4 linked regions of the Homo sapiens genome follow. The protein of the gene in region 1 purifies or fractionates together with the protein of each later gene. This does not show direct contact. Each region holds a gene or a part of one and is shown in the gene's direction. Other genes may lie near its edges.

Region 1 (7,023 bases):
AGACAATAAATAGTTAAATAGATAATGTCAGATGGCAATATAAAAGGATAAATAGAGTGGGGGTAAAGGGATGTGGAGTGTGGAGGCGACAGTATAGAATTGCCATCGAAAGCCTTACTGAGAAGGAGAGATTTGATAAAAGACCTGAAGGAAGTGAGAGATTGAGCTATAATATATCTGGGGGAAGAACATCCCAGAAAAGGATCCTTGGCGGGAGTGAACTGGATCATGCAAGGAGGCCAGCGTGGTACCAGGGGAGTGATAAGAGGCAGAACAGCAGGAAACGAAGTCAAAGAGGCTGTGGGGACAAGGACATGGGGGGGCCTTAGAGGTCATGCTAAGGACTTTGTTTGGCCTTTTACTCTGAGAAGTCACTGGAGGGTCTGGAGCAGAGGAGTGCCATCTGGCTTAGGTTTCAACAGATCACTCTGCAACTGCGGAGTGAAAGGCATGAGATTAGAAGCAGAGACCATTCAGGAGGCTTTTGCCATAGTCCAGGCAGCTGATGATGGTGGCTTGGAGCCAGGTAGGGAGAGTGAAGTGGTGAGAAATGCATACATTCTGGATATTTTTAAAAGATGGATCTGGCAAGATTTGTCAATGGATTGGCGGTATGTGTAAGAGAAAGAAGAGTCAAGAATGATTTGAAGATTTATGACCTGAGTAACTGGCAGGATGGAATTGCCTTTAACTGAGAGGGGGAAGAGTATGGGAGAAGGAGGTTTCAGAGAGGAACCCCAGGAGCTCTGTTTTGGACCTGTTAAATTGAGACATCTATCACATATCCAGGAGGACAAGGGAGGAGAGGTGTCGGGGGAAGCCGTAGACTTGAGAGTCATCAGCATGTAAACGGTATGCGTTCAAAGCCAAGAGGCTGGATAAGTGAGTGTAGACAGAAAACTGAAGAGTCCAATGCTGAGCCCTGGGCACGCTTGTGTTTAGAAGTTGGAGGGTTGCATAGCAGCATAGGTGCCTGAGAGGAATGTACAGAAAGTAGGAAGAAAACTGGACAATTGTGGTTTTTTGGACGCCAACTGAAAAAAGGGTTGCAAAGACAGTCTGTGTCAAATGCTGCTATTAGGTCAAGTTAATTGAAGACTGAGATTTGACCATTGGATTTATAATGTAGAAGTTACTGGCAATGATTTGAAAAGCAGTTTTAGTGGAATGCTGGGGGTAAAAGGTTGATGGAATTGGTTCAAGAAAAAATGAGAGGAGAGGAATTGGGGACAGCATGTACAGACAAATCTCTCAAGTGTCTCACTATAAAGGGAAGGAGAGGAATGGGTCATTTATGAAGAGTGTGGCTGGGTGAGACAGGGTGTTCTTAAAGCATCAGAAGCAAAAGCTGATGAGTCAATGAGTGGACAATCACATTTTAGCAGGACCACTCTGGCCGCTGTGTTGAGAAAAGACTAAAGGAATAGCCTCTTAATTTGAGCTATCAGTGGTGGCCAAATTCATGCTTTTTCGTGTGCCACCTTGCAGATACCAGACCCATGCATGGATGGGTCAGCAAGAAGCCAGGTCATTAGGATGAGAAACAGCTAGAGTTTGCAAAGGCTTGGAGTAAGATAGTAGAGACAAGTGTGGGAACATCACTGTTGGCTCTTTGCCAGGAATTCATATCACAGAATTGGCCCTACTGCCTTAGGAACAAAAAGTGGTGTGAGGAAAGTGTCATGAACCTCTCTTTCAAGTGAAGTATTAACCCTTGTTTTTCATATAACCACGAAGTGGAAAGTTCACCATTTATTCTCAGGAGGTGGAGAGGAGGGTGAGTCGGATGGAGTAGTTAACCTAGTCCTACCCTAGATTGGGAAGGAAAAAAATCATGTCAACTTTCAGCTCTCTTGTTCCATTCCATTCATTAAAGGTTAGGTTAAGGGGGGTTACTTTATTCTGACGCATTCCATTTGCAATTCCCCTGGGCAATTGTTCTACCCCTTTACAATAGTAGTCTCTAAGTAGCTCAGTGTCTAGACAGGACAGAGTGTGGTAGCTTGGCGGTGGTGGAAACTCGTTTGGAAGGCTTCTTTTGACTTTCTTAACCATCTAGCCTCATTGGAGCTTTGCTCTGTATAAAGCTTTATTCTGACTTCTTCCCAGAAAAGGATGCTTTTGGGAAGACAACGGGCTCCACTTTTCCCATCTTACTGTAGTGCCTATGCCCATGAAACTTACATGTGAATAAAACTTCAGGAGAGTTTGGATATTTCTGGGATGAGATGGGGATCTCTGATGTTTCTTGTAAGAGGCTCAGGGTGAGAAAATCCCCTGGGGATGGGTCATAGGGCAGAAGATGAGGTTGGGGGAAATTAGTGGAAATAACTTGAGGAAGCTAAATTTTGTTCAAAGGGAAATGTGAATAAGCAGAGCTACTTAAAGCATATTGCCATGAAAAACATAGATGCCGCATTATTAAGGAAATGTTTGGAAATGCTGTTGGATCATGAGGATTCTCAGATTTTACCCACAGCCTGCCTCTCCCCAACTCTGCCGCCACCTGCCTTCTCTGAAGGCTGTAACCCTCCCATGCTTCACATTATTGCTGCTTTTTGATTATCTCCCTGGGGGTACTTAGAAGGGCAGAGGGAAGGGGGACTGGGCTGGGTTGAGGGCACGCTTTCCTCCACCTCTGGGAGTCAGTCCACCATTTGCAGTGTGAAAGCTGTCCTTAGGAGAACACCTTCCTAATACACAGATTTGAAAAATGTCAATCAACATGATTCAATTCTAAACCGAAGACTTAAATATAGCATTGGTGTATAATTTTAGAATTTGCTTTTGCTATGCAGGCAGTTGATAAAGTACAGTGTAGGGAACTGTTATTTATCTGTACAATGTTTCTTCACAGTCCATGCCTAGATAGTTGAGATTTAATTGTTTCATGTTAGTTGTACCTCAGTACATGTGGTGTTTGGTATTTGTCCTTACATCTTTTTTTTTTTTTGAGACGGAGTCTTGCTCTGTCACCCAGGCTGCAGTGCTGTGGCGCGATCTTGGCTCACTGCAAGCTCCACCTGCCGGGTTCACGCCATTCTCCTGCCTCAGCCTCCCGAGTAGCTGGGACTACAGGCGCCTGCCACCACACCCGGCTAATTTTTTTTTTTTTTTTTTTTGTATTTTTAGTAGAGACGGGGTTTCACTGTCTTAGCCAGGATGGTTTTGATCTCCTGACCTCGTGATCTGCCCGCCTCGGCCTCCCAAAGTGCTGGGATTACAGGCGTGAGCCACTGCGCCTGGCCCTTATGTCTTTTTTTATGCCTCATTTCTACTATATTAAAAGGCAAAGTATACAATTTCTATTTCTTTGGCACTTAAGGTTAGACACATTAGTTTTTCAGAGTGCTGAATACACATTGTTAACCTCTAGGCAATAGTATATGTAGGATGAAAGTATGAATTATGCAGAGTAAATTGTTAATCTGATTTCTTCACTTTGGAAAAAGTGCTACATATACATAATTTAATTAGAATAAAGCTTTGCATTTAAACACATTTAATATTTAAGCTCTAATCACTTATTTTTAGAAAATTGCTAAGCATCCTCATTGTATTTCCACATAGACAAGCTTCTTAGTGTAGGCCAAAAAATGTAGAATGATTCAACTCTGTTGTGTCCTAGATTTGAGGCCTTATTGTGCAAGTACCAAGTTCTGTAGACAATCCAATCTAACCCTGGTCCTAGAGATAAAGAATTGTGATTGTTATCCAAGATAGGACCAAGGAGAGCCCTGTTTAGGGAATTACAGACAAAAATGTTATTGGGTTCAAAGGAGGGAGACAACACATCAATTATGGAAATTAGTTGAGGCTTAGTAGATAGTGTAGCGGATGGACTTGGAAGGATGGATACACTTTCATTAGCTCCACGTTGGGAAAAGTTGTTCCAGCCAGGTAGTGGTAAGAGCCCTGGTAAGGTGTGGCTGTGAGGAAGCTGTGGCTAAGGTAAATACAGGGACACAGTGTCCCCTAGTTTGATTGGAAACACATGGCTTTTAAAGTGGTAAATTGGGAGAAAATGACAATTCTAATGACAGTAGCCAGCACCTGTGGTGTACTGTTTTCTCAGATGTCAGACATTGTATAAAGTGCTTTATGTGTGGAATCTCTTTTACTCTGGAAAAGTGGGTCAGTTCTGTTTTTGTTGGAGAGCTTTTCATGAAAGAGCAATATCATCAGGGCTGTGATTAAAGCAGGTTTGTACAGAAATAAAGCACAGGGAAAGGCAGAAGGCAGAGAGAGCACTCAAGAGGCCATCTGTATGTTCTCTGCAAGAAGTAATGAGAGCCTGAATTATCCATGGTGAACGTAAGTGAGAATGCAAAGTTGCTACCTAATTGAGATGCTAACCAATTGAGTTGTTAAACTAAAATTTGGCCCAAGAAGGCCTCCATTATTTGCATACTTGCATTCTTAGGTATGAGCTGTGACCTAGCTTACTAGGTAAGCAAACTGAAAACCTAGCCAATGCTTCTGTAACAATAGCTCAGTCTCAGCTAATCACAGCAGCTACACTTCAGGCACTCCCAGGCAGACAGCTGTTCAAATGGTGTTCAAATCCAGCTGTTTCCGTACCTTGCTTCTTTTTTCTGTACATCATTTTCCTTTTTCTGTCCCTAAATCTTAACCAACCATGAGGCAGCCCAGAGTCTCTCTGAATCTATTCTGATTCTGGGAGCTTCCCGGTTCAAGAATTTTGTTTTCCTTGCACAGTTAATATCTGTTAAATTTAATTTGTCTAAAGTTTTTCTTTTAACAGTAGGAATCCAAATGCACTTAAAACTTGAGTTGATAGTCTGCTAAAAATTTTATTTTCTAACTCAAAACACATTAGTGGAATCTTGAGGTCCTAGATAACCTATGCTCTGGTCTAGGTTCCTTCCTTGAGATATGGAAAGCATGAGTCAATGAGGCCTAAATCCCTTCATGCTATCTGAGACAGAAACCTGGAGGCGGAGCAGACTCTTCCCTCCTCCTCATCCTTTACATCTTATCAGTCTCCAGCCAACTGCGGATCAGACTGTTGACTTCCTTTCATGTTTCATGTACCAAAGCCTCTCCAAAAAGCTCTGATTCTTGAATGTTCAAGTTTTAAACTACTGTGAAATACTAATCCCAGAATTAACTGTCTTTCAGATTCCATTGTGATTGGATTTTGGGTTGGTCTTGCAGTCTTCGTGATTTTTATGTTTTTTGTGCTGACCTTGCTGACCAAGACAGGAGCCCCACACCAAGAGTAAGTTTGGGCTGTTCCTAAATGTCTCTTAAGCCTCACAGGAGACTGAGGAAATAGAAACTACTACCCAGGGCCGGAGGTGCTTCCCGTGGATGAAGAGAAGGGGGTGGTTATAGATTTGCTGTCTGGACCCAGATGCCCGTGGATGGGATCCAGCTATTCTCCTGGCTTTTTGTTTCTTGCGTCTTGGGCTTATTTTCAAGTGGACTTTTATGAAATTGGGTTTCTTGGTCCTTTCCTACAGTCTTAATGATGATGTGGGCCTGATTTTTACATTGAAATGTTTATTAATTACAATGTATTTTATTCATATTCCCAAAAGGATTTAGATGATTCACCATATTAAAAACAGTGGAAAAGACAATGGCAAAATAGGATGAAAACCAGTTTTAAAAATTATTTCAAGAAGCAGAGTAATAGTTGTTCCTGGATACTCAACTCAATTTAACTATTGACAATGATTAATAAATTTAACAGAGTTTTCTTAAAACTAGGATACAAAGGCAAACACTGTGGTTTACATAATTCTCATAACATGGTAGGACTTGTGATGATGCTGGACTTTGGATTGATGGAGGAAAGTATTACATGAGTGCTTAAAGAACATTGAGAAACATCAAAAAGTATTTGTTCAGTAATGGCTTGTAAAAAATTCAGAAATATATTAAAGGATTTATATATTTTATACCAAATTTTTAATAAAAGGGAAAATAGAGAATATTGAATACCTCATTAGTCAGCACCAGCAGGCAACAGTAATTAAAAGAGTTTTTGGCCGGTATGGTGGCTCACGCCTGTAATCCCAGCACTTTGGGAGGCCAAGGCAGGCAGATCACTTGAGTCCAGGAGTTCAAGACCTGCCTCGCTATGGTGAAACCCCGTCTCTATTAAAAATACAAAAAATTAGCCTGTTGTGGTGGAGGGCACCTATAGTCCTAGCTACCTGGGATGCTGAAGCACAAGAATCACTTGAACCTGGGAGGTGGAGGTTGCAGTGAGCCAAGGTCACACCACCGCACTCCAGCCTGGGCAACAGAGCCAGACTCTGTCTAAAAAAAAGAAAAAGAAAAAAAGTTTTTGATAAAGGGGCTGTGCGGAAGTTATGGACAGGGAAGAGGGCAACTACGCAGGCTCATGCAGGACAGCAGGGCTGGCAACACTGAGGAGCAGCCATCCTAGATCCCAGGAAGCAAGGGGTGGGGCCACAGCTGGAACCCTGGAGTCTGCTGAGAGGAGTTGTGACTTTGGGCTGAGGGACACAGCTAATCCAGTGTGACCTCTCAGGGAAGGAGCCTCAAAGTTAAGACCAAGACCTCAGTCTTCTCCCTCCTTCCCATTTCTCACCATTGCTCCCCACTGGCTGAACACAACCAGCAGCCAGAGGCTGCATCAAAGGCTAGTTTCCCAAGCACAGAGCAGGACAGGGGAGGGTGGGAGAGACCTGGGAGAGTGAATATAAGTTTCACAGGAATCCTGGCATTTTGGTTTTGTTTTGTTTTTTTGTTTGTTTTTTGAGACGGAGTCTTGCTCTGTCACCCAGGCTGGAGTGCAGTGGCGCCATCTTGGCTCACTGCAAGCTCCGCCTCCCGGGTTCACGCCATTCTCCTGCCTCAGCCTCCCCAGTAGCTGGGACTACAGGCACCCACCACCACGCCCAGCTACTTTTTTGTATTTTTAGTAGAGACAGGGTTTCACCATGTTAGCCAGGATGGTCTCGATCTGCTGACTTCGTGATCCGCCCGCCTTGGCCTCCCAAAGTGCTGGGATTACAGGCGTGAGCC
Region 2 (7,393 bases), on another chromosome or scaffold:
CAGCTGGTACAACTTCCCTCTCCTATCAACACTCAGAGCACTTGGTATGTGCGGCTCTCAAGCAATGCTGATAATTTTCCTTAGGACTGTTTCCCCTCTGAGCTACAGGCTCATTCACTTACACATTCCTGAGCCCTGTAGGACCCTGTGTTTCAAACCACAGGTCACTATAATGGGTCAGGATGTCAATTTAAAGCTATAATTTCCCAAAATTGCCTGAGAAGAATCAGCCAGGGCTAGCGTTAAATATACACAGGCCAACTGGCCTCTCTCCTGGGGATTCTAATTTAGTCTGTCTTGGAACTGATTATATATATATATCATATATATCATATTTGTGTATATATCGTATGTGTGTATACATCATGTGTGTATATATATCATATGTGTGTATATATCATGTGTGTATATATCTATCATATATGTGTGTGTATATATCATATGTGTGTGTGTGTGTATATATATCATATATATATATATATATGTTGGGTTTTTTTGAGTTAGGGTCTAACTCTGTCTCCCAGGCTGGAGTGCAGTGGTATGATCACAGCTCACTGCAGCCTCAACCTCCCAGACTTAAGCAATCCTCCTGCCTCAGCCTCCCAGGTAGCTGGGACTACAGATGTGTGCCACCACGCCTGGCTAATTATTTTATTGTTTATAGACAGGGTCTCACTGTGTTGCCCAGGCTGGTCTCAAACTCAAGTGATCCTCCTGCCTCAGCCTCCCAAAGTTCTGGGATTACAGACATGAGACAGATCTATTTTTTAACCAGACCTCTAGGACCTAGAATCTAGGTCAATGCTTTTCAATCTGTAATGTGCACACAGCACACCTGGTGAACTTGTTAAATACCAATCCTGGTTTACTGGGGCCAGAATTCTGCATTTCTAACACATTTCTGGGTGACTCAGTGCTGGTGCTGTCCCTAAGTGTATGGCCCATAGGTAGTTTGCCCAAATTCAAGAGATTCTTGTCTTCAGGCACATTGGGGAAGCAAGAATTGAGCACTGTTGTTCTCAACCTCAGCACACCTGGGAAGCTTTTAGACTATACTAAGGTTCAGGTCCCACTGCAAACCAATTAAATCAGAACCTCTGGGGCAGGGGAATGGGGCCGGGGAGTGGGGCGGGGGGTGGCTGTTGTTTTGTTTTCAAAGCTTCCCAGATGATTCTAATGTGAAACAGGGCTAAGAATCACTGATTCAGTGGGGCCCCACCACCATTAAAATGAATGAATGAATAAACTGAAGAGAACAAACAATCTCCCAGGCTGGCAGGGTAAACCCTGGGTCTCTGTTATATGTTATTAATACAGATGCACGTGAGTTGCTGGATCAGAGCAGGTTTGGACATGAATGAAGCAGAAAGGGAGAAGGTCCTGGAGTTCACAGACCAGCCATGGGGACAGACTGCAAGGACCTGAGGTGGGGGCAAGGGAGGGTGGGGCTGACAGCACTGAGGGGCTCTGCAGCAGGACGTAGTGAGTTCAGATGGGGCAGCAGTGACCAGAAGCCTCTGAACTGAGCCATGCAGGAGGAACAGGACATTGTTATGAAGCAAGCAAGACCTTTTAGGCACAGAGGACAAAAAATACCCAAGCGTTGGGGGACGTGAAAAGAATGCAGCAAGTTCAGGGAAGGGAACACCAAGGGGCTGGCTGGCCCTTGGCCATTTGGTACTGGGGGTGTGAAGGGGAGTGGCAGAGATAGTCACTCACAGTAGCTGATACTCCACTGACAGCTTGCGTAAGGCTGTTTTCGTGCACCTAAGAGCCAATGAAGTCTGAGGGCACCAGACAACCTTCTAGAAAGCATTTTTTGAGGGGAGGAGTGGAGGGTGATTAAGCAAAGATCCACCAGCAACCTTCTTATGGCCCTTTCCCCCAGGAACCCAGGCCCTGCCTTCCAACAGCTCTGCTCTCCACCCGCATTTCATTTCGGCAAACATCTCCTAGGCGCCCTTTTTGCCAAGCACTGAGTTGGAGAGCCAGGAAAAAGCCAGACAGCTCTGCCCTCATGAGCTGGCGGTGGGAAAGATCACACTGTCATGAGTGACTACAACATAGGACAGGATGTCAGAAGCGCCCCAAACTTTGGGGCATGGGAAGGCAGGGGCAAGGACAGTCAATTTTGCCTGAGATGATCAGGGAAGCCTTCTAGGAGGGAGAGGAGGCAAAAGGACCTTGAAGGGCTATTTGGTGAAGGGCTAACATGTATCAGTGGTGAAAGGGGGAAACAGGCTTAAGGAACACAGGATTTGCAAAACACTGAGACTGCATATGGCTAAAGCACAGAATATAGTTGGGGTTGAGGTGGACAGACTGGCAAAAGGGCCAGGACAGGACAGCCCCGTGCACCGAGTTAAGGAGTTTGGATTTACTGGGGGAACCAAGAGGGAACCAAGGGGGAACCATTGGAGATTTTTAAGCTGCGGGATGACATGATCACAGCTGGGTTGGAGGATATCTGGCAGCTGACCTAGTGGTTGGAGGTATGGAATGCAGGAATGGGTGGATGAGGACAGAAATGAAGGGCTAACTTTAAGATGGATCTGGTATCCAAAAATAGAGGGTTTTCATCCCCAACATTCATATGCCCAAGAAGAGCCAATGAAGGGCCTGGGGGTTTCTGACAAGGAACTAAGAGCTGGAGGGGCAGAGGACTGTGCTGTGGCCTGCAGCAGCATAAAAGAAGCAGACTGGGCTCAGCTCCAGACCTCAGTTTTCCCGTTAGCCTGGGATTTTCTGAGTCTGGTGTGCCCCAATTGTGTGTTTAATTTCAGTCTTTTCCTTCTTGTTCAGGTTTTACCGCAGGAGAATAACCTCTCCATTCTAATCTGAAATTAATTATTTATGCTTATGAACACGCTGGATGCCTGCCTGGTTTATTTATTTTTCAAATAATGCATCTGAATAGGCATTCACACAAGACAGGGCAAACATAATTTTGAGGCAAAGGCCCTTTCCAACTGTTGCCCGATTAACTGTTCTAAGCCATTGTGTAGCCTTGTCCTTATCCTGCGGAGTCCAAAATTTATCCCTCGCGTACTAATTAGATGGCAGGTGTCTGTGTCTGACAGTCAAGATTCGCATTATCCAGCCCCACCACCTGACCCTTACAATCTTATCTCCTGCTGCTATGACTTTCTCCACTGGGCCAAATTCCACTCATCCATCCTCCAAGGCCCAGTTCAAACGTCTGCTCTGTGAAGCCATCTCTGGTTCTCCCTCGAGGGGGGAGGTCCCCTCATGCTTCTGAATTTCCAGTCTTTTGTTGTTGTATCCTTCATCAGACGCTAAGCTCCCCAGGACCTGGCACGCAGTAGGTTCCTCAATGGAGCGTTTGCTGGAATGGGGGAGGGTGGTCTCCAGCTTCCCGAGAGGCACCTAAGCACGCCAGCCAAAGTGGGGCTGGGCAGAGACCAGACCCGCTTTTGGAGTCAGTGTCTACAAAGTGCTCTCGGGGGAAGGGGGCACGCGGGGAACGTCGCCCACCCGGAGCCGATCCCCCCAAGAACGCTTCACTCGGGTGGGGTTACTGCTTGGGCTCGCCCCAAGCACAGTGCGCACACTTCACACATCCGCAAGCCTCCTGAAACGCCTCTCCCCTCAGGCCGACCTTTCTGTTTCCTTCAACGCCTCCCATCTGTTGTGTGCGTTCCAGTTTCCAACTCAGAGTCAGAACCATCATTTCCAAAGACTCCTGCAACAGCCCGAGGACGCATACAAGGCATGGGTTACTTTTCAGACGGAGATTTGGGGCTCAGGGTCCAGCGACTCACCCAAGGTCACTCTCAAGAAGTATGAGGGCTATGACTTTGACCCAAGCCTTCTAACTCCCCGGGCAGCGCTCCTCCCAAGCCCCCCGCAAGCTGTCTGAGCTTCAAAGGAAAAAGTTTAAAAGTGATCCATACGTCCCAAAGCACGCACAAAGCGTTCTTCTGTAAACTGCGGCATGGGTCGCTGATAAAAGGTCCCTCTGAAGGTTTGAAGATACTCAACAAGGCTCCACAGAGGGTACTTTGGAGTTTTCCGCGAAGGCGCTCGCCCCGCAGAACCGACAAGGCCCCTAAAACCGACAATGCCCAGACGCCCCCTGCAGGCAGCGCGCTAGAGAACGCGTTGGCTGTTTCTGGCACGCTGAGGCCACCGTACGGCATCAAGGGTGAAGCATGGTGGCTAGCGGAGCCCGCATCCTGACAGGTGTGCTGGCGTGGCCCTCTACCTGCCCCGCCGCGGCGGCCTGCGGCCAGGAGAAGTAGGCTGGCGACATCTGGCGGGCCGCGGGCCGAGGGAGGGGAGGCGGGGCGGGGCGGTGTCTCCCTCACGTGACCCCAACAGCGCCCAGCGCGTCGCGCTGCGCCCCAACCTCGGGGTCGGTCACAGTCTGCGCCTGCGCGGGCCCCGGCTCGCTAGCCGTCCTGCGGGACGCCGGCGCTGATGGGTGAGTGTGGGACGAGCGTGGGGAAGCACCGGGCTTTCTTCGCATGAGGTTGGAGGGAGGGGAAACGCGCTGAAGGGCCCGCTGGGGCAGGCTGCCGCCCTGGGGGCCCATCCCTGTCTTCTGCGCGCTCCGGCTGCCCTGGCCCGGTCCCTGCGGGCCCCACCCAGGCGGCGCGGGCGGAATCAGTTCTGAGCCTCCTCGGCTCCGGGCTCCCCCGCCTGCCGCGGGTGTTTGTCCGGCTGCTGGGCGACCTTTCCCGCGAAGGCGCTGTCCCTTCATTCGGGCGCGCCCTGGGCTGGGGAGGCACCTCCCTGGTGCACAGGAACCGCAGGGGCGGGGAGGAGCCGGGAGCTGCCTGCGCCCGGGGGACAGCGGGGATGGCACCGCGCAAGGGCCTCTGCGTCCCGGGAGACTGGGATTTCGGCCTCACCTCGGGACCCCTGACTGTGAAGTGTCAGAAACGGAAGAGGACTTAGTGATCTTGTCCAACCCCCTCCCCGCCTTTCACAGGTTGGGGAAATGGACGCCTGGAGAACGGTAAGTTCAGCTACATAGCCTGGCAGTGCTTGTTCTGCGACAGCATATTGCATCGCGTTGTAGGAAGCTCACTTGTACAAGGATTTTCGGGGACGATGGTGTTGGTGGTGTTAGTCTCCATCCATTATTTGGTGTTCAGTTTAGCTAGATGGAGTATGTCAGCACCTCAACTTCCTGCAAAACCTTTGTTTTGCATCTCACAGCTCTACCTAGCTGATCTTAATTCCCACCTTCTGTTTTTCTCTACTTGTAATCTCTGAAACAGAAGCCCTTGAAATGTATAGTGACCTTGCCATTTTGAGCCGCCTCTGCCCGTGCTTTGAAAGGATTCCATAGGATCAAAAGGTGCTAGGACTCTTGAGGTCCCATAGTGGTTTAGAGCACAGGTTACCGCTTTGGAACTGGAATCACCCTTAGCGCATCTCAGGGGAAAACAAGCTAGGAGTTGACTCATCTGATCTCTCGTTTGGTAAATGAAAGCAAACTCAGATCAGTGGATTTTAAAATCAGATATTGCTTTGTCTTTATATTGGCAAGCTAGTGTCGTAACTAGGACTAGACCCAGGCTGATCTTGTTCTGAATGCTGACTCAGACCTGCTGACTAGTGGAAATTCACATCCTTTGAGAATTGGAGTCACCCTCTCCCCAGTTTTTGCAGAGACCTTTGTGCTAGGATCATATCTGTATCATGCTGATCCATGTAGGCTGTAAATTATAATAAGGTTTTAGACTTTACACTGTTTTCTTAGTCACAGAAGCTTGACACTTGTAGTTGCTTGAAAATCAAGTTCATTAACTGCTCCCTTATGATGAGATAGTTTTACGTAGCAAACAAGCGTAAAGTTATGGTAAATAAATTTTGCAATAAATTGCAAAGAATTATCCACATTAATGAATAAAAATATAAAGATCAGTTTAGCAAAGAAATTTAACCATGTTCACAGTATAGGTAAACATGCAAAAGTCTAAACTGTACTACCAAATAATGCTGTGCACATTATCCTTCTATTGCTAAATTAAGAACATATTCACACCATCCTGGTGTGTAGGATTAAACTAGAGAAAAAGCTTTAAATCTGTAAAGTCCAGGAGGGTTTCATAACATTTTTTCCCCCATCTAGGCCTATTTTTTAAATCTGAGAATCTCAATGTACAGTAATGTTCTTAAAATAGTTGGATATGGTGGTCAATAAATGGTTAACTTCTGTTAGCTGTAGTTTTCTGCTTGTTTAATAACAGTCCCCATTCTCACACAGAGTCATAAATAAACTAACCTTTATTTGCAAAATTTCAGAAAGTAATACAAGTAACATTCCAGTAAAAGTGAACATGGACAAAATTTTTATTGTTGTTCAAGTACACAAATAACTTGGCTTGTACTGTCAAGGAGCATGTGTAAACAGCTTGTAGGTGGTGACTTTAGAATTTAAAATATTTTGTGTGCTCCGTATGTAAAAATAAAATGGTTTTGACATTCATAAATTGTCACAATATCATGTAATCATGTACATTAATCTAAATATTCTTGTTGATTTAACATTGTTTAATTCTGAAACTGAAGAAGTGCAAAGCATTACATAGGTATCAAGCATTTCTAGACTAAGTTTTAGGACTTCAAATATTGATTAATCTTAGCTTGTAAGTGTACTAATAAGAGTTTTTAACTCATACCTATCAGCTGAATCAGTAAAAAGTAAGGATGTAGTAGAACTAATAATTATCAAACTCAATACCCTAACAGACTTCAGTGTCTAGAACATATCTTGAAGTTAATCATATTAAGCCCCAAAACTCTGTACATTAAGAAAGGGAGAGGAGAGAGGGAACAGATGATATTCTGGAACCTTTTTTTTCCCTTTAATCTTATTTTTACTGTGAATAACAACACTAGACTCACTGAAGATTTTGGGACACTTACTAGCAAGCATAGTTAAGACAAAATGCCAACTCTCTTAAATAGTAATAAGAGTTTTGCTCAAAGAAAAGTACACAGCCTTAAACAGTCAAGTTATGAAATAAAGGATAAAAATAGTTGTCTCACTTAAGAATTACAAGAAAATAAGCCAGGCACAGTGGCTCACACCTGTAATCCCAGCACTTTGGGAGGCCAAGGCAGGCTGGATCACTTGAGCTCAGGAGTTTGAGACCAGCCTGGCTAACATAGTGAAACCCCGTCTCCACTAAAAATACAGAAATTAGCCGGGTATTGTGGCATGCCTGTAATCCCAGCTACTTGGGAGGCTGAGGCAGGAGAATCGCTTGAACCCAGGAGGTGGAGGTTGCGGTGAGCCAAGATTGCGCCACTGCACTCCAGCCTGGGCAACAGAGTGAGACTCTGTCTCAAAAAAAAAATTTTTTTTTTAAACTAGGTGAGCATGGTGGCTGATGCCTGTAGTCCCCTTTGGGAGGCC
Region 3 (7,023 bases), on another chromosome or scaffold:
AGACCCCATTCTCCACAAAAAGGAAGAAGAAAAAAAAAAGACAGAAAAAAGAGGTTTCTTGAACCTCCGAAAATTCTGGATTCACCAAAGACCCAGGCCTTTAGCAAGGCAGACAGCAGGGCTGCGAGCAAGGCCTCTGAATCCTGGGGAAGAGCTGGAGAAGCGTGGTGAGGAAGCCTCCCAGCCCTAACTCCATTCTCTGTTATCTTTACAAACAGCAACCCAGACTACTACGGACTCATCTAACAAAACAGCACCGACTCCAGCATCCAGTGTCACCATCATGGCTACAGATACAGCCCAGCAGAGCACAGTCCCCACTTCCAAGGCCAACGAAATCTTGGCCTCGGTCAAGGCGACCACCCTTGGTGTATCCAGTGACTCACCGGGGACTACAACCCTGGCTCAGCAAGTCTCAGGCCCAGTCAACACTACCGTGGCTAGAGGAGGCGGCTCAGGCAACCCTACTACCACCATCGAGAGCCCCAAGAGCACAAAAAGTGCAGACACCACTACAGTTGCAACCTCCACAGCCACAGCTAAACCTAACACCACAAGCAGCCAGAATGGAGCAGAAGATACAACAAACTCTGGGGGGAAAAGCAGCCACAGTGTGACCACAGACCTCACATCCACTAAGGCAGAACATCTGACGACCCCTCACCCTACAAGTCCACTTAGCCCCCGACAACCCACTTCGACGCATCCTGTGGCCACCCCAACAAGCTCGGGACATGACCATCTTATGAAAATTTCAAGCAGTTCAAGCACTGTGGCTATCCCTGGCTACACCTTCACAAGCCCGGGGATGACCACCACCCTACGTAAGTAATGCCTGGTTTTCTTCAAGCACCAAGAAACTTTTCAGGGCCAGGCGTGATGGCTCTGAAAAGGCTCATGCCTTGTAATCCCAGCACTTTGGGAGGCCGAGACAGGTGGATCACCTGAGGTCAGGAGTTCGAGACCAGCCTGGCCAACATGGCGAAACCCTGTCTCTACTAAAAATACAAACATTAGCTGGGTATGGTGGCAGGCGCCTGTAATCCCAGCTACTCAGGAGGCTGAGGCAGGAGAATTGCTTGAACCTGAGAGGGGAATAGTTTCTATTTCATACCTATTTATTTATTTATTTATTTATTTTTGAGATGGAGTCTCGCTCTGTCACCCAGGCTGGAGTGCGGTGGCATGATCTCTGCTCACTGCAACCTCCACCTCCGGGTTCAAGCAATTCTCCTGCCTCAGCCTCCCGAGTAGCTGGGACTACAGGTGTGCACCAGCACACCAGCTAATTTTTTTTTTTTTTTTTTTTTTTTTTTCAAGTAGAGACAGTGTTTCACCATGTCAGCCAGGCTGGTCTTGAACTCCTGACCTCGGGTGATCTGCCCACCTTGGCCTCCCAAAGTGCTGGGATTACAGGTATGAGCCACCATGCCCGGCCGATACCTGTTTACTTACTTACTTACTTATTATTTATAAGAGCTTGTCTTAACCTAGTAAATCAATTTCAAAATCTACCTATGGATCAAGAGCCTTAGGATCATGGCCCATCTCAGACCTGTGGACCCAGAGTTTCTGAGCGCTCCTGGTGATGTTGCTGCATATCAGAGGCATATGGTCTGAAGTCAGCAGGCCACCGCTCCACAGGAGGGTGCCACACAGTAGGAGTGCGGGCTCCGGCTGAGATAATCCTGGCTTCGAATCCCTGCCCTGCCATTGTTGGCACAGGAACTCGGGCAAATCACTGAGCCCCTCGGAGCCTCAGTTTCCTTGTTTATGAAATAGGGATGATGCCGATTCCTTCCCCAGAGGATTGTGAGGATTCAGTAGGAAAGTACCTTTGAGGCACCCAGTCCCTTGCACAAAGTTAAGTGCTCAGTGAACGTTTGCTGCGGCTGCTGTGACTTTGCCGGGTTATTCCACTGGCTTGTCATAGGAGTCCACTTCTTCCGTCTCTGTGGGAGGTAAGACCAAAGAACCTGGGAAAACTATTAGAGCAAGAAAAGATTGTCCTCTTCTCGCAAGGGTGCACTCATCTTTTCTCATTACCCTCGTTTTCCCAATGACAGCGTCATCGGTTATCTCGCAAAGAACTCAACAGACCTCCAGTCAGATGCCAGCCAGCTCTACGGCCCCTTCCTCCCAGGAGACAGTGCAGCCCACGAGCCCGGCAACGGCATTGAGAACACCTACCCTGCCAGAGACCATGAGCTCCAGCCCCACAGCAGCATCAACTACCCACCGATACCCCAAAACACCTTCTCCCACTGTGGCTCATGAGAGTAACTGGGTAACTCCAGCAGGGGTGGGGCAAGTAGGAGAACCCAGACTCGGGTAGAAGAGGCTTTAAGACAAGGTTTTCTGTTCTTTCCTCCAACGCAGGGCCCCTGGCTGGGGCTTTGAGCAGCACTTACCCATTCCCTCCTCCCTCTCCCTGGTTAGCCTGGTCCTGGCTTGAGCTGCCCTCAAGCCACGCAGCCAGGACATACCTGGCTCTGGAATGGGTCCAGCCATGCCTCCAGCTTGCCGTGAACTCTTTCCTATCTGGGTCACCCCTTAGTTGGGGGGAAATGTCAAAGATTCCATGACTATTAGCCCAAACCTTAATCTCAGTGGCTTCTTCCAGGCAAAGTGTGAGGATCTTGAGACACAGACACAGAGTGAGAAGCAGCTCGTCCTGAACCTCACAGGAAACACCCTCTGTGTGAGTAGCTTGCTGATCTGAGCCGCCAGGTGCAGGCTCACAGCAGGGCTGAGGGAGGGAGAGGGAATGTATGTTCTTTCTAGGTGCATTTTTAAACATCTTTCTAAGGTGCATTTGCTTTCCGGCCCTCATTTCTTCCTAGTAGGAAGTGGTCCTTTCCCATCTTACAGAGCAACAGACCAAGGTTTAAGACTTCTCTAAGTCAGGACACACCCACAGGACTGGACCCCCCCCTCCCACCCCCCGGTTTCCTCGGCTTTCACTGTGTGACTATTTCCAGTATGCTGAGTTGAGGGACCCTGATCCTAGTTCCTGTTTGCCCCTAGCTCTGGGAGTGACTTTGGTGAGTTGATCTCTTTGGGTTTCAGATGTCTCAATTGAAAATGAGAGGTGAGGCCAGGTGTGGTGGCTTACACCTGTAATCCCAACACTTTGAGAAGCTGAGGCAGGAAGTTTGCTTGAGGCCAGAAGTTCAAGACCAGCCTGGGAAACATAGGAAGACCCTGTTTTTACAGAAAGAAAAGAAAAGCAAGAGAAAATGAGAGGTGTAGTCTGTCTGCTTTAATCGTCTGTGGCTTCACATTTCCTGGTCTGTGGACTATCTGAGAGCCTTGATGGACGAACAGTGCTGGGAGATTCTCCCTCTAACCTGAGGAGCTGATGGGATGGGTGGGAGAGAAAAGGGCCCAGGAATGCAGGAGCCACTGCCAGCATTTCTCCAGTCTGGGTGGTGAGCGTGCGTGTGAGCACACCTGTGTGAGGGAGGTAGCAGTGTGTGAGCAGCCTTCAGGCCACCGGTCTCCATGGGTCCAAAGGCTTTGGTCTGGGGAGTGTGCGCTGTGCACACTCAGTAAATAACTGCCGAGCGCGGCGGGTGCTGGAGATGGCTGGCTCACTGCTGCCCTCTCCCGGTCAGTGCCGGTTTTTTGCAGCCACCCCCTAGGAACTAGAACTAGAACAGACCTGAACACGGTGTCTATAGATAGGATGGAGAATTTGGGCTTACAACACTTTAATGCTGCCTGAATTTTCTGCAGTTGTTTTCTTTTGGGTGTCCATTATGCCGGCATTTTCCAAGTGAACTTTACAAAAGCCTACATCTAGACCAGAGTTTTAAAAGGGAGCAGTGCTCTCCTAGGGCTGGGCTTATTGGACAAGGCAGGCATTGCATGATATGGGCTCTGGGGACAGTCAGGTGCCCGCCCAGCCCTTCCTCAGACCCTCTTTTTGGATGTAGCTTGGTAGGCTGTGTGATTGTTGTGAGACACTTTTTTTTTTTTTCCCTTTGCTAGAAAAGGAAGATGGAAAACCCTGGATCCCTTCCTGATGTCAGGGTGGGGAATTACTAAGCCTAAGGAAATTCTGGTAGAAACCTTAGGGGTGGTTTGTATGGGTTCTGTGCTAAGCTATCCCTAGAGTCCTTTTCTTTGTCTTAGTCATTTATTCCAGAATCAGGTCAGAGAAGCCCCAGGGAGGGGTGCCCCTAGATGGCATGGCAGGACTGGATACATGCTGCCCACACTTCTCCCCTCATCCTCAGCTCTAAAGCCACGTCAGCCACAATCTTTGTTCTTAGAGCTAAATAAGACCCCCTCCAAGATATCCTAGGGGTAGCTTCAAGATCCCACCTGTTCCCCTACTCAGTGGAGCCCCTTCCCTGTCAGCCTGTCCGTGGCTTCAGAGCCAGAGGCTCTGCCTAGGGCAAGGGCACATGTATTTCAGCTTTGGGGGTAGAGACCCTTCTGCTGAGAGCTGCAGCCTCCCCACCTGATTTCTCCGAACTGGGCATGAAAGGCTGGTGAATGGGAGTTTAGGGGGAATTGGAGTCTCCCTGCGGGCTGTGGGGTAGGGTTGCTGTGCAGTGCCCCCTCTCTAGCCCGTTCTAGGGAGGGAGATGAAAACAACCCCCAATCCGCAAACAGCTTGGAGGGAAAAAAGAGGCACTAGGGTGAAAGGAATGAAAGGTGCAAGCGTAGACCAGATAAACACAGTGCGGAGAACGGGCTGATGGGAACGAGACAGAGGAGGCAGGAACTGGCCCAGGAGAACAGCATGCAACCCTTGATTCCTGGCAGGCCTGCGTGGAGCACCAGCTGGGGCTAGAGAGGGAGGCAGGTTCTAGCACAGCAACAGCACTGTCCCGACCTTAGCTGGGAGGGCAGCCCCACAGGCCTAGGCTGCTGTCACGCTCCCCGCGGAGTCACCTGCGCTCTCCCCACCATAGGCAGGGGGCGCTTCGGATGAGAAATTGATCTCACTGATATGCCGAGCAGTCAAAGCCACCTTCAACCCGGCCCAAGATAAGTGCGGCATACGGCTGGCATCTGTTCCAGGAAGTCAGACCGTGGTCGTCAAAGAAATCACTATTCACAGTGAGTGGAGGGCAAGGGGGCCTGGGCTGGGGCCTGCATGGGTGGGAATGGGGGGCATGCAGAAGCCACATTGGAGGGTGGGTCACAGTGGTGCCCCTTCAGTTCCCTAAGAACTGTCAAGCCACACCCCCTCCCAGGTCACCCGAGAGACACTCAGGAGACTGAGATACGGTGCGTCCCTCTCTTGGGGCGCAGTCCCCGTCCCCCACTGCCTCGCTCTGGGCTGGGCCATTGGGCATCGTCTCCCTCTCCCACAGCTAAGCTCCCTGCCAAGGATGTGTACGAGCGGCTGAAGGACAAATGGGATGAACTAAAGGAGGTAAGCGGCCCCCCAAGTGTGGGGACAGAGTGGCTCCGAAGCCCCTTGTGGGAGGTCTGGTTACTCCCCTCTCTCTGTGGGGAGGAACCCCGTCATGTGCCTGCATGTAGAAGAGGGCGGCGGCACGGACCCTAGCAGACTGCAAGCGGAGGGGCTCTACAGTGAAGCCGGGGGCTGAGGGAGAGAGGATGCCCCCAGCCTGTTCTCTGCCACTTCCCATGCAGGCAGGGGTCAGTGACATGAAGCTAGGGGACCAGGGGCCACCGGAGGAGGCCGAGGACCGCTTCAGCATGCCCCTCATCATCACCATCGTCTGCATGGCATCATTCCTGCTCCTCGTGGCGGCCCTCTATGGCTGCTGCCACCAGCGCCTCTCCCAGAGGAAGGACCAGGTAAGCAGCTGTTTGCAGCCACACAGGGGAAGCAGCCCAGGTCACCAGAGGAACCCTCCCCTCGTGATTCCCGAGTTGCAGAAGAGGAAAGGGAGCAGGCCCTGGACCCTTTCTAACAGGCAGAGGCCACCCCTGATAGGCAGCCGCCTCAGTCCACAGAGCATTACAGAGGCAGCGTGGCAGAGGACAGAGCGTGGGCTTTGGAGTCGGGAAGACTTATTTATTTTTTATTTTATTATTATTATTTTTTTCAGACAGGGTCTTGCTCTGTCACCCAGGCTGGTGTCACCCACTGCAACCTCAAGTGATTCTTGTGCCTCAGCCTCCCCAGTAGCTGGGATTACAGGTGCCCACCACCACGCCCGCCTAATTTTTGTATTTTTACTAGAGATGGGGTTTCGCCATGTTGGCCAGGCTAGTCTCGAACTCCTGACCTCAAGCAATCCGCCTGCCTCAGCCTCCCAAAGTGCTGGGATTACAGGTGTGAGTCACCACGCCTGGACTGGAGTCAGGGAGACTTGGTTAGTCCTGGCCCTGACCTTGAGGAAGTCAGTCAGATGAGCTCTTTGGGCATCAGGTTCCTCATCTGCACAGCAGGGATAACCTCCTTGCAGAGCTGGTCTGAGGATTCATTGATAGAAGCAGGCCTAGGTGTTCTGTCTAACCAAAAATTCTTCTGCCTACCTTACTAGAATTCTCGCCATGATGGTGCCACCCAGACCCTGTGGTTCTCACTCCTGCCTGCACACCGTGGGGAACTTTAGAAAAATTCCCTTGCCTGACTGCCTCCCACACCAATTCAAACAATCTCTGAGTCCATCAGTGTAGTTGTTAAAAGCTCCCCAGGTGATTCTAGCATACACTCAAGGTTGTGTTTGAGAGGGACAGAAAGCGCCTCTGCCAGATGGCTGCTGTCTGCCGCAGGGATGATTCTAGAGACACCGTACCCATCCTGCCCAGGCTTGAGGGCTCAGTCACCCAGCCCGAGAGAGGTCATTTTTTAATAGTGTTTTTCCCATTCATTATGATAGGTGAGGTAGGTGCCTGGAGAGGAGGTTTTGGGGGAAGGGATGAAGGGGAGGAGAGAGCTTAGAGGACTCTGGAGAACAAAGTCCATCTCCACTAACTTCACAGGTTCTGCCACCAGGGTGAGGGTGAGGGGCAAGTCTTTGTTCCCAACTAGTTCCGGGCAGGCTGAGAGCCAGAATGACCACCAGGAGCAGCCAGCCCCACAGGCGA
Region 4 (7,023 bases), on another chromosome or scaffold:
AGACCCCGGGGTAGGCGCTTTCGGCCCCGGCTGCCTTTCTTCCTTTGGGACTAACAGCTATGTAGAAGAGGCAGCCCACCCCTAAGGTTCAGGCATCTGCTCAACTAAAGCAGCTGCGGTTCTGAGTTGGGTTAGAACATTGCAAGAGTTCATCAAGAGACGGGGGAGAGTTCGGAGGTCAGGGTGAGGTGAGTCCCAGAGGAGACCAAGAAGAAGTGATGTGAACTAGGTTTGGAGGGATGAGTAGGAGTTTGAAGAAGAGAGAAAGGACTTGAGATAGATAAAAACCAGTATGAATAAAGACTGGGAGGTGTTGTCACTTGTGAAGTATTCAGAGATGTGGCAGATCACAGAGGGCATTGAATGCCCTGTTAAGTACCTGTAATTTTACTCTGAGAACCCAGAGAGAAAACACCAAAGGTTTAAAGCTTGGATAGGGAGGGTGGAGTGTGCTGTGGTCAGGTTTATGTTTCCAGAAAATGCTCTGTGGCTATGGGAAAAGGATGGAGACAGGATGCCCAGTGGGGCAAGAGGGTGCAGGTAAGTAAGGTGAGAGAAGATGCTGGCTTTGATAGGTGGTAGCATGGTGCCATCTTGAAGGTACACTTGTCAGGACAGAATGATTTATTGGATGTGGGAGTGAAGGAGAGGAAGAGGAAGGAGTCCAGGTTCCTCGGAGTGGTTGAGCGGGCCTTCACTGAAGGCCCTGAAGCTTCACTGTGTTAGGGACTTGGTGAGGAGGGGCAGAGAATAAGCTCTTAGTTGGACATGTGGCCCTTGAGGTACTTGGGACATTGGAGGCTCAGTGGGGGAGGCACATCAAGGAGGGGCTTTGGTGTGAGGGTATGGGAGAGAAATGTCGGTCGGACCAAGAGAAGCGAGAGCTGTATGAGAGACCATAGAGCTGTGCACCTCGAGAGAAAGTAACCTCCGACAGTGGTGAAGAGCTCGAGTTTTATACTGCTAGGATTGGACTCTGTTTACTAGCAGCGTGACTTTAAGCAAGTGGCTTAACCTCTCTGAATCCGCTTCCTCATTTGTCAAATGATTATAATAAAAACCCGTGCCTTATAAGGGTTGTTATGAGGATTAAAGATAGTATGCATAAAGTGTGTGTAGCACAGGGCTTGGCATCTAGTGAGTACTGTTGTCTGTGTTTGCAGTTACTGTAATCATCCTCAACTGGGATGGTGTAAACCCACCCTCCCATCAGGGGTCACATGAGGTTGCCTTTAATGAGAAGATAGACTGCTAAGGTTAGGGTCCCTGTCTGCCTAAGGTTGCTGCAATTCTGAGCTGAGATTAGCAGGTCAAGGAGCTCAACAAAGGGGGTGCCTGCCCCTATTGTTATCGATGGGATTGTTTGTGTTGCTCAGGTGTTTGACCTTCAGGTGGGTGGGCTTGAGAAGACTAGAGGTGAGGCCTGCAGAAGAGACTCCATGTTTGGGGTAGGTGGAAGGGAATTTTGAGAAGGGGCAGCCTTGGGGTATTGAGTTCTCCATTTCCTCCCACCCTCCCTGGGCCCTGGGCTTCTACTGAGGCTCTTTCTGCCACCATCTGCCTCTGTGGTCCAGATGCACCATGTCTCTGTGTGACCGTGACTTCTAGGTCTGAGAACTCTGGTTTTAGCTCCTTAGCAGTATTTTAGCTGCTGTTTCTGGGGACTGTTCCTGGTGCAGCCACAGGGGCATTCTGGGGGTTGCTCCAGAGGGCAGCTGTGCCTGCATTCCCCTAGGTATCATCGACTTGCTCCTGACCCACTGCCGGGCCAGGTTTCAGGCCTGGCAGATGATGGGGAACCCTACTGGGGCCAGCCCTGCGTTGGCCCCAAGGGCTTTCTTTCTTGATATTGGACATGACTGTGGACTTCACCCCTTCTGAGGCCTTCCTGGGTGCCAAGCAGTGTGATTTCTTTCTTTTTCTCTTTGGTTTGAAACAGAATCTCACTCTGTTGCCCAGGCTGGAGTGTAGTGGTGCAGTCGTGGCTCACTGCAGCCTCCACCTCCTGGGCTCAAGTGATCCTCCCACCTCAGCCTCCTGAGTAACTGAGACTACAGGTGTAGTCCCACCTGGCTAATTTTTGTATTTTTTTAGAGACAGGGTTTTGTCATGTTGTCCAGGCTGCTCTTGAACTCCTGGCTCAAGTGATCCACCTGCCTTGGCCTCCCAAAGTGCCGGGATTACAGGGGTGAGCCACTGTGACTGGCCAGCAGTGTGATTTCTAACTTGGGTCCTGAACCATTCAGGCCCTTTCTGAGTAGCTTTCTAGTCAACCTTCCAGATGTCAGCTCTGGCTCTGTTCTGGGGGTGTATCTGGTTGTCCTGGTTGTTCTGGGCTCTGTCCCAGTGTGAGTGTAGAGTGGGTTCTGGGAGCTGCAGTTGGTGAATCTGAGTCTTTATTTGGTTGCCTGATAGGTTGTTTTGAGGTCAGTTTGATCCCAGACTGACGTGGTTCAAAGTTACTGTTTGGCTTTTCTAGGATCCTGCCCTCATGCTGTTCTGTGTGCCTCAGGGTCTTTGCAAATGTTTAGTCTTCTAAAATGGCCCCTGGCCACTTTGGGTACACACCTCTTTCCAGGTGTGGCTTCTGCTCCATGTAGGGCCTGTCTCAGTCTCCAAGCACGAGACCCTGCTGTGGCTGGGTGTGGCAGCAGCGCCTGGCCAGCTTGGGGGGCCTTTCCCATTACCCAGTTCCCTGCCTTGGACTCTGCCCCTCTGCCCAGGGTCTCTGCACAATGGTGCAGCCAAAAACCTCACTTGAATACTGTGAGGCCCTGCGGGCATCTCTAGACAAATGGGCCTTTAAGTTTGGGGCCTGGAAGCTGGTTTGTCTGGCCAGACCTGCTGGGCAGCCTGTATGCTGGGAGCAGCAGCTGCTGGAAACTCAGCTTGGGGAGCGGGGAGGGAAGCATGCAGAGAGGGCTGCGGGTTCTGGTGCAGGTAGGTGGGGCAGTGGAGGCTGGGTCGCCAAGCTGGCGAGGGCCATCTTGGGTCAGTTGGGATGGCCTTCAGTCGGTGAGAGTACCCCCATATTGGCAGAGGTGGTTAGTGCAACTTGAGGGTAATTCCCAGGTGCAGAGGTGTGTCCTTGATTTCATGATGAGGGTCAGTCTTGGGCCGGTGAGGACATTCCCACGCACCACCCTCCCACTGTGGTTTCTTTGTGTCCGTTATAGGAGGAGCCAAGGTGGCAGAGTGGTGTGGGGTGGGGATCACTGTGCATGTGGGGGCTTGAGGTGAGAAGCCTGCTGCAAGGTGCAGCTTGCGTCGAGTAGGCCAAACAGCTGAGCTTCCGTGAAGTGGTGATGAGGTGGTATGGGTGTGTCTGACCCCCACCCCCACCCAGGATGGTACCCACGCTGGTGGGGACTCAATAATGGCTCTAGAAGGAAGGGGCTGGGCTCTGTCGCTGCATGTGTGCCAGCGGAGGAGGCATCCAGGGGCACGCCTTCATTTTAAAAATTATAGAGTAGAGAAAGTCAAAAATAAATATTGCTTCTGAAGCTTCTTTGAAGACTGGCATGTATGTTGGGGTGTGTTCTTCCAGGCTGGGCTGTTTTCTTTGAACTCATTCATGCGTTCATCCACTCATTCAGTGTATGCTGACTGAGCACCTACTATGTGCCAGCTGTCAGCCAGGCGCTGGGGATACGGAAATGAGCTGGGCAGCCACAGTCCATGCTCCTATCAAGCTTATGGTAGTGACTCAGTAATTGTAAAAATATATAAATAGTCATGTTTGTGGTCACGGCTCCAAGCCAAGGTCCAGGCAGGTAGTCTGGGACATTGTGGAAGGCTTCCCTGAGAAAGTGCCACTGGACTTGAGATCCGAGGGTAAGTTGGCCAGAAGAGCATGGGTAGCCTGTGCCAGGCAGTGGCATTCAGCACTGGCAAGGCTGGGAGACAGGAAGAAATTTGGCACATTTGAGGATCAGAAGAGGAAGTTCCCGTTCTGGCAGGAGGAGAGCATGGGCAGGTAGGGCTGCAGAGGTGGGAGGGGCCGACTCTGCTTGGCTCTGGGGTCATGCTGAGGAGCTGGGCCACAGAGTCTACTGCTGAGGTCAGGGACTTGGTCTGTGTGGCTCACAGCTATATGGCTGGTGCCTGGAAGGACGCCCAGCACATAGTAGGTGCTTAGGGAGTATCAAAATGAATGAGCGAGGGAGTGAAGGGAAAAGATGGGCATTTTTACCAGATGGGGATGGTTCTACATGAACATTTCCATAACCTGCTTTTTTTTCTGCATAAACAGCAAATTTTTAATGTCTTTCTGTGTCAATACATATGCTGTTGTGATGAAATTCTTGATGTTTTCTCATGCTTTCCTTTCTGTCCAGGAAGGAGTGGAGGCCCTGGTGCCCGGCCCTTGGTGCTGAGTATCCAGCAAGAGTGACCGGGGTGAAGAAGCAAAGACTCGGTGAGTGTGCCCCACAGAGTGGCCAGGAGCAGGGGTGCACAGGGGTCCTATGGACCAGGCTGAGCAGCTTGGATTTGATGCAGGGTCAGTGGAGAGCTATAGAGGGGGTGTCAGCAGGGGGCATGACATGATCCAGTGTGCACTGGTGAGAGATTGTGGAGGCCTGGACCAGGGAGGCAGTGACAGAAGTGGAGAGAAGGGATGTGAGTGCTATTTAGGGAGGTAGAGTAGACAGGACGTGGTGAAGGATTGAATGTGGGGCATGAAGGAGGGGAGGTGTCAAGGATGGTGCCTGAGTTTCTGGCTGGAGTGGATGATAGAGGTGGATGGGGAATGACATACAGCTCGTCAGCTACTGTAGGTGTGAAATAGGCTTCCGGGTGATGTCCTGGGACTTACACCAGGATCTTTCTTCTGCTTCTCCATTCGCCACGTTTCTGTAGAAAAGACTGTTCCCATCGACTGTAGGTTGTCGTAGAAAGAGCTTGGTGCCTGCAGGATCTGGGCATGTCCTCTGCATCTCTTTGATGTCCCCTTGTTCTCCTCTCTGTCTGTTAGAAGCACAGAATGGGTGGGCTGGAGTTGCAGGGAATGAGGTTGGTAAGTTGGTTTAGAGTCAGCATCATGGGCCTTGGATGTCAGGCTAAAGACTTTAGACTTTTTCCTGAGGGCAATACAGCAGCATTGAAGGTTCTTAAGCAGAGAAGCAATATCCATGTGTTGATCTGTCCATTGCCCATCCGTTCATTCTTTCACGGAACACTGTCTGAATGCCTGCTGTGAAATAAAGTGGCAAACAAAAGTGCAGATTTGCATTTTTATGTGCTGAAAGGTGGCACTGGTCTGTGTGCGGGATGGGTTGGGAGTGATTGAAGGCAGGAAGCCCACCAAAGAGGCAGGAAGTGATGAGGTCTTACTAACACAGTGGCAGTGAGGATGGAGGCAGGTCAGATTCAAACTTATTGATGGGTTAGATGTGTGGGATGAGGACAAGGGAGCATTTAAGGAGGGTTTGCGGGCTTGGTGACTGACAACATGGTGGTGCTGTCCCCAAGACTGGACACCCTGGAGGAGGAGTGGAATTGGGGCAGATGAGTTCTGGTTGGGCCATCCTGAGCCAAGAGCTCGGTGGGTCTGTTCACCCTCTGTAAGCTCCTCGAAGGCAGAGCCTGTGACTCTCTTGTTCATCACCCTGCCCACTGAACATCTGGACGGGTGGCTGAACTAACAAGGCTGTGGAAGAGATGGGTCTGGCCTGGGTAGGGGAAGGAAATGTGTATGTCCTGGGTGTCTCCTGGGGTCCAGACCCTACGTTTGGTGAGATGGGCACTGGGGTTATGTAGAGGGTGCAGCAAGAGGGGCTGTGTCACAGGCTGGAAAGGTCAGATGGGGAGGGTGGGTGTAGGGACACTATGTGTCCCTTTGCCTCTCCATCCTCAGATGATGGTCTGACCTAACTCGAAGTCCAGTCTTGCCAGAATAGGTACCTGAAGGTGGAGCCCTCTGTCCTCTCGGGAGGCCACTAGCTGATGGCATGTCTGGTGGGGTGCAGATGGGGTGTGCTATAGGACCTGACTTCTGGAGGCTGGGTAGGGCTGATGTGGGGGTACAGGGGAAGATACTCTGAGATCCTGAGGCCAGGCGCCAGCAAATACAGGAGTTAAGCCAGGTTGGAGCTTCCTTGGGTACAAGGCCCAGGGTGCCCACAGGGGATTGGGTTCTGGGGCAGGGGCCAGGTCAGGCTCTAGGCTCAATTGGCAAAGGATCTTGTTGTCTGTGTTGGGGTTTCTCAGCCTCAGCACCATTGACATTTTGGATCAGATAACCCTTATTGTGGGGGCAGGGCTTGTTATTGTAGGGTGTCTAGCAGCATCCCTGGTTTCTTCCCCCTAGATGCCAGTAGCATCTCCCCGCTTTCCCCAGTCTCGACAATCAAAAATGTCTCCAGTCGTTGCGTAATGTCCCATGGGGGCAAAATTACCCTGAATTGAGAACCTCTGGTCTACAGCCTCTTGCTGCTTTCACTATACTGTACAAACCTGGAAAATTGGGGAGGGTCAGTGGGGAAGATGGATAGTGATGGGCCACTTGAGCAGAGTTCTGAGGGGTGAGTGAGTGCTGGGGCAGGAGAAGGACATTTTTTTCCAATAGACAGAACGGCAGGTACAGAGGCTTGGAGGCACAAAGTTGGGAAACAGTAATCCAAGGGGGACCCCAGCCCCAGAGGAAGGGGCCTGGAGGCTTAGGGGTTACAGCCGCAGGAAGATACCTCTGCTGGTCCCCTTTGGTCATTTGCCTCCAGAGTTAGTCTCCTGCTGACCCTTTGCCGCCTCCAAGTCTCTGCGACACTCCTCCTAATCTCCCCCTCCACTCCTCAGTGAGATGGAGAAACTGAGAGCTGCAACAGGGTGGGACTCAGTCCAGCTGGTGGGAGCCCCGATACCAGCCGTGGGAGGGAGGGCTGTTCCTGGCTCTGCTCACGGATTCTGGCCAACTGGCTGGAGGAGGGAAGGCGGCCTCACCCTCTTCCCCACAGGCCCCTCCTTCCCTGGGTCAGGGGTCCTGGCTGAGACTATAATTTATTCCCGTCATAATCCAGTGGTTGG

What was found.
Region 2: the proteins of MRAP2 (region 1) and SLC25A51 purify together in Homo sapiens (co-immunoprecipitation; 3 studies listed by BioGRID and IntAct, with this or other methods). This does not show direct contact.
Region 3: the proteins of MRAP2 (region 1) and PODXL purify together in Homo sapiens (co-immunoprecipitation; 3 studies listed by BioGRID and IntAct, with this or other methods). This does not show direct contact.
Region 4: the proteins of MRAP2 (region 1) and PTPRF purify together in Homo sapiens (affinity purification with mass spectrometry; 2 studies listed by BioGRID and IntAct, with this or other methods). This does not show direct contact.

Annotation. Positions count from the first base shown.
Region 1 is NC_000006.12:84,057,751-84,064,773, forward strand, and holds part of MRAP2 (melanocortin-2 receptor accessory protein 2), read left to right. Parts: intron 1-5,142; coding exon 5,143-5,242; intron 5,243-7,023. UniProt on the Homo sapiens protein: Modulator of melanocortin receptor 4 (MC4R), a receptor involved in energy homeostasis. Plays a central role in the control of energy homeostasis and body weight regulation by increasing ligand-sensitivity of MC4R and MC4R-mediated generation of cAMP.
Region 2 is NC_000009.12:37,901,119-37,908,511, reverse strand, and holds the start of SLC25A51 (mitochondrial nicotinamide adenine dinucleotide transporter SLC25A51), read left to right. Parts: upstream 1-4,384; 5' UTR 4,385-4,444; intron 4,445-4,954; exon of another isoform or gene 4,955-4,981; intron 4,982-7,393. UniProt on the Homo sapiens protein: Mitochondrial membrane carrier protein that mediates the import of NAD(+) into mitochondria. Mitochondrial NAD(+) is required for glycolysis and mitochondrial respiration.
Region 3 is NC_000007.14:131,504,629-131,511,651, reverse strand, and holds part of PODXL (podocalyxin isoform 1 precursor), read left to right. Parts: intron 1-218; coding exon 219-824; intron 825-1,320; coding exon 1,321-1,416; intron 1,417-2,066; coding exon 2,067-2,287; intron 2,288-2,623; coding exon 2,624-2,701; intron 2,702-4,925; coding exon 4,926-5,073; intron 5,074-5,330; coding exon 5,331-5,392; intron 5,393-5,616; coding exon 5,617-5,784; intron 5,785-7,023. UniProt on the Homo sapiens protein: Involved in the regulation of both adhesion and cell morphology and cancer progression. Functions as an anti-adhesive molecule that maintains an open filtration pathway between neighboring foot processes in the podocyte by charge repulsion.
Region 4 is NC_000001.11:43,533,861-43,540,883, forward strand, and holds part of PTPRF (receptor-type tyrosine-protein phosphatase F isoform 1 precursor), read left to right. Parts: intron 1-4,337; 5' UTR 4,338-4,417; intron 4,418-7,023. UniProt on the Homo sapiens protein: Possible cell adhesion receptor. It possesses an intrinsic protein tyrosine phosphatase activity (PTPase) and dephosphorylates EPHA2 regulating its activity.